Regions from separate parts of the Homo sapiens genome. Here region 1 is linked to region 2. A link means that fine-mapping ties the variant in region 2 to the expression of a gene that starts in the linked region. Tissue or cell type: monocytes. Region 2 holds a variant in brackets; the other region holds the start of a gene. All regions are shown on one strand. Distances are between the middles of the regions.

Region 1 (2,809 bases), 40 kb after region 2:
GTGTGATCTCTGCAACCTCCACCTCCCAGGTTCAAGCGATTCTCCTGCCTCAGCCTTCCGAGTAGCTGGGATTACAGGTGTCTGCCACCATGCCCAGATAATTTTTGTATTTTTAGTAGAGATGGGGTTTCACAATGTTGGCCAGGCTGGTCTCAAACTCCTGAGCTCAAGTGATCTGCCCACCTCGGCCTCCCACAGTGCCGGGATTACAAGCATGAACCACTGTGCCCAGCCCAAATTACTTATTTCTTCTTATTTGTACTACGCTGCTTCTCAAGCACCTTTAAGAATTATTTATTTCATCCCCTCTGTACTGCGTTTTCCAATTTTCTTATCTTTCAGAGTTTTTGCTCTACATTCCTCAGTGTTATCTTCTACTAATAGTTTTTTCACTTCTTTCTTATTTCTATTAACTTTTAAAAATCCCCTACCCCTTTTATTGCACCCTGTTGTGGCTTCATCTTCTCTTATTTTTCTGGGGCTATTATGAGAATTTTTAAAAGTGTTCTCCCTGCAGCATCTGCTTCCTCCATATTCCTTTGTCTGTTGTTTGGGTCCCTTCTTTCTACATTATTGGATTTTTTTGGTTGCTGTCCATGATTAAAAGTAAAAATTAAAAAGTACAAAGAGAGGAAGCTCCAAGTAGATAGCTGGTGCTTTTAACTTTGAATTTCACTGTAGGGTGATCTGGGTGTATGATTTGTCCAGAAAACCCGATGTCAGTATCTTTGCTCAGCCTCTTAGGTTAATCAGATAGCGAGGGGTTTCAGTTTTCAGTAGGCATAAAGCCACTTATTCTCCGTTTTAGGTGGAATACCCACTCAGCAGAGAATTTATCCCCTTCAGGGAATTCAGCCGGGGTGGGAGCCCGTGGTGGGAAAGAGGGGCAGCTGCCCAGAGACATGAAGCTGGAAAAAGGATCTAGCGATCAGAGTCCTTGAGCAGCCTTTGACTAATCTCCCCCTTTTCCGATTTACCTCTCATACTCATACTTGTGCTCTCCAGCTTCCAACATTTTGTTGCTGTTATCTCTTTGTCCTTGTGTTTAGGTTGTTAAACTTGATTTTTAACAGGAGAGTAGGCAAAATTAGATGCTTGAATTCAAACCACGATCTTAACTAAGACCTGATATCCGTAAGTAAAAATTTTTGGTATTCCAGCTTTCTTTTGAGTAGCAAAAGAAAAACAAAGTCTTTTGGCCACTCCAACCATGTTACTCAGTAGGCCCTTCCAAAGACACCCACTTCTCCATTTTGGGGATCCCCTTGTACCTTCAGACTCCACAAGGAGTACACGACCAGCCACGACAAAACGAGATGCAGACTATTGGGAGGACTATAAACGGTAGGGGTGATACCCATTTGAGTCCACGAACGGCCCTCTCGGCGCCGCAGACACTGGCTGTCCCCCGAGACGCTCCAGCAGCCACTTAACTTCACCCACCTGTAGCGCCCGGGGACGCTCGAAGCCCGACCTCCCACGCCCGCCCCGGAGCCCCGCCCCTCCCGCCCCTCCCCGCCCTTCCCGACTCTCCCCGCCCCTTCCTGCCCCGACGCGCAGCAGGCCCCGCCCACCCAGGCGGTAGGAACCCACTCCGGCCCGCTAGACCTGCTGCTATGTCCCGGCCGCAGCTTCGACGCTGGCGCCTCGTCTCTAGCCCGCCGAGCGGCGTCCCGGGTCTAGCGCTGCTGGCGCTGCTGGCGCTGCTGGCGCTGCGGCTCGCGGCCGGGACCGACTGCCCATGCCCGGAGCCTGAGCTCTGCCGCCCGATTCGCCACCATCCAGATTTCGAGGTCAGCGCCTTCCTCTGCTCCTCTAGGTCTGGGCTTCAGGGCACGAAGAGAAGTTAGGGTAGAACGGAGCCCTAAGGAGAGGTGCCGTGGGCGCCGAAACCAGCTTTGACCACTCGATGAGGGCCTTCCTGTTTACGGATCCTTCAATTTATAGATGAGGAAGCTCGGGCTCAGAGAAGTTGAGTAACTCCTCAGGCCTCACAGCCTGTAAGTGCCTGCGTAGGCAGGCGAGAGTTCAAACCAGATCTGCCTCCTAAGGCAAGCTCCTTTCATTCCCCTGCTGTGCCTCTGCGGAAGCACTCTGGGTGTAAAAAGCAAACAAGGTAGGATAATCCATTTATGTTTCCAAGGAACGAGGATTTCGTTTGAAAGAATCTCAGCACTCCAACAGTACATTAGAATGCAGAGTATTTTGCTTACCTTTAGTTTTCTATACCTGCTAGCCCTTTCCTTTAAAGTACCTCAAAACCACCCATGAAGAGTGGTAAAAAAAATAGCTTTCAGTACATTTTCCTTCTATCTACATAACAATTTGTAAGGCTTCTGGCAACTTTAATCAAACACCTTCTGGAGCAATATTAAAACCACCTGACTGCCCACTTCGATGACTGAAAGCAGGAATTGGATGACATCAGGAAGGTCCAAAGGCTTAATTCAAAGAACGATTCTTTTGTAGAAATAGGCATGATTCCTAGTTCTTAATCTAGTACATTAATCTGAGGCAGAACACTTAGATGCCAGTAAAAAAGTATATATACATGACTTAGGAGAAGAAATAAAAATGGTGAAAGTGTTTATGGAGAACCTGCCTAGTGTGGAAACCTAACATCTTATTAAAAGAAAGACTTCAGACAAAGTAGGATAACCTTTTTTATTTGAGCAAAGAACAACTTATGAATCGGCAGTACTTAAACCAGAAGGGGTTCAGAGAGGTCTGCTTTAGTAGCATGGGCTTTTATAGGCCGAACAGGGAAGCAAAGGAAAATAATTACTTGGTTGGCTATGACTGTTTGCCT
Region 2 (2,656 bases):
GGTTTTCATTTGCATTTCCCTAATGATTACTGATGTTGAGCATTTTTTCATATACATATATATATATATATATATGTATGTATGTCTTCTTTTGAGAAATGTCTACTCAGGTCTTATTCCCATTTTCGATTGGATTATATGGGCTTTTTTTTTTCTTTTGCTATTGAGTTGTTTGAATTTCTTACATATTCTGTTTCTTTTTTCTTTCTTTTTTTTTTTTGAGATGAAGTCTCACTCTTTTCACCCAGGCTGGAGTGCAGTGGTGTGATCTTGGCTCACTGCAACCTCTGTCTCCTGGGTTCAAGCAATTCTCCTACCTCAGCCTCCCAAGTAGCTGGGATTACAGGTGCCCACCACCATACCCACCTAGTTTTTGCATTTTTAGTAGAGACGGGTTTTCACCACATTGGGCAGGCTGGTCTCGATCTCCTAACCTCAGGTGATCCACCCACCTCGGCCTCCCAAAGTGCTAGAATTGAATTTCTTACATATTCTGAATATTAACCCATTACACCAGTGCATAGTTTGCAGACATTTTTTTCCAATTTTGTAGGTTGCCTCTTTGTTGATGGTTTCCTTTGCTGTGCATAAGCTTTACAGTTTAATGTAATCCCATTTGTCTATTTTTGCTTTTGTTGCCTGTGCTTTCGAGGTTTTTTCCAAAAAATTCTTGCCCAGACCAATGTCATGAAGCATTTCTCCTATGTTGTACTCTAGTAGTTTTATAGTTTTAGGTCTTCCGTTTACATCTTCATTCCATTTTGAGTTGATTTTTGTATATGGTGAGAAATAGGTGTCTAGTTTCATTCTTCTGCATGTGGATATCCAGCTTCCCCAGCACCATTTATTGAAGAAACTGTCATTTTGGGGTAACTGCTTTCTAACAGGTCTCTGGGGTTTGGTATTACTGCGCCAGAACCCTTTCATATAGCTGTCAGAGAGATGGCAGTGGAACAGCTCAGTTTATATCTCTCTGCTCTTTAAACCTATCTGATGATTCTTCATTGCCAGTAGGATAAAGTCCAAACACCTTGGCTTGTC[A/T]TATCAAGTCCTTTCCCATCTGGTGCCCATCATCCCAGCTACCTCCTCTGATACTCTCTACCATGCATCCTATGATTGCCTCCCAATTTTACATTCTCTTCATCTTCCTGATTAAAATAGTGATTGCTGATTACATGTCCTCTCTTTTGCAGTTAGATGTGGCCAGGTGACAAAGTTCTGTACAGTGGAATGTAAACAGAAGTATCATGTGAGAGTTTCCAAGAACTTTTTCAGGAGGGAGGAAACACATGTCCTTTGCCCTCCCTTTTTGTTTGCTGCCTTCTCCATCCTATAGCCTGGAATACAGACATGATGGCTACCATCTTGGACTATGAACATGAGGATCACACCCAAGGGAAGGAGAGGCAGCAAGCTGGAAGGTACTATGGAGCAGAACTGCCACAGCCTGAGTACCTACCTCTGGAACTTTCTGTGAGAAATGAAATGGGCCCAACAGTTCCATAAACAGTTGTTTTGGGATAAACATAGAAATGGCCCCTAGCTTGAAATTTGCATTTGTTTTATCTGAGTTCCCTCCTCAGGAAAGGACCTTCAGGCCTCTCAAAAAAGTATCAAGAGAACTGACACCAGATGCCTCCTTGCCCCTCCCTAGTTCCTGTTTTCTTAAACATTGTTACATATCTTCCCTGCTATGTAAGCCCCTAGATTTAGTCAGTCAGGGAGATGGATTTGAGACTGAGCTCTCATAACTTGGCTGCAGCACCCGATTAAAGCCTTCTTCCTTGGCAATACTTATTGTCTCAGTGATTGGCTTTCTGTGCGTCAGTACCTAGACTGAACCCCTGGTGTTTCCATAACTTGGTCAAGCCACTGTTATTCTGAGTATCTGTCCCTTGCTGCTGTGCCTAATCCTAATTGACACAGAATTTGGTACCAGATCTGGGATGCTACAGGTCACTCCATGCTTATGTTTTTCTTTCTTTATGTTCATAAGAATTCAAGAAGCTAGCCAACCCCACTATCTTTGAATTATTCACTCTTGCCATGAAGATTTATTACCATAGCCACTTGGCCTTCCAGCGTTTTGATTTCCATGGATACTTTTTCTCCCAGGTGACTACAAGTGACAATGTATTTATTTTGAGATGGATTTTCACTCTTCTTGCCCAGGCTGGAGTGCAATGGTGCGATCTTGGCTCACTGCAACTTCTGGCTCCTGGGTTCGAGAGATTCTCCTGCCTCAGCCTCCTGAGTAGCTGGGATTACAGGCATCTGCAACCACTCCTGGCTAATTTTTGTATTTTTAGTAGAGACGGGGTTTCAGCATGTTGGCCAGGCTGGTCTCAAATTCCTGACCTCAGGTGATCCACCCTCCTCGGCCTCCCAAAGTGCTGGGATTACAGGCATGAACCACCATGCCTGGCCTACAAGTGATAATTTAAATAACTGTTCTGCCACTGCATACCACAGACTGGTAGGCCTTCCAAAGTAGATCTGTTTGGCAGAATCACATCCAGAACCATAGCTTCAAGGAATTCTGGAAACGTGGCTTTATTTCTAGATCTGTAGAACAGGCAGAACACTGGGAACAGATGTTGAGTGAGTCGATCCAGAGTGTCTGGTAAACATGTCTCAATCCAGCCTCATGAGATAA

Evidence for each region. PIP is the estimated chance that this variant, and not a neighbour inherited with it, causes the effect.
Region 1: it holds the start of CTBS, and the variant in region 2 is the best candidate, but not a certain one, in a credible set for the expression of CTBS in monocytes (TOPMed, PIP 0.81).

The regions. Positions count from the first base shown.
Region 1 is chr1:84,573,223-84,576,031 of GRCh38, reverse strand. It overlaps CTBS (chitobiase), which reads left to right and starts at 1,592. Exons shown (of 7, transcript NM_004388.3): 1 at 1,592-1,793. The coding sequence starts at 1,617. RefSeq lists a silencer at 1,460-1,579 and enhancers at 1,740-2,029, 2,140-2,239.
Region 2 is chr1:84,613,205-84,615,860 of GRCh38, reverse strand. All of the region lies in intron 2 of LINC01461 (long intergenic non-protein coding RNA 1461), which reads left to right. Among named protein-coding and RNA genes, the nearest start is that of LINC01461, 6.5 kb to the left of the region's middle. The variant A/T (reference allele first, on the strand shown) is at 1,042.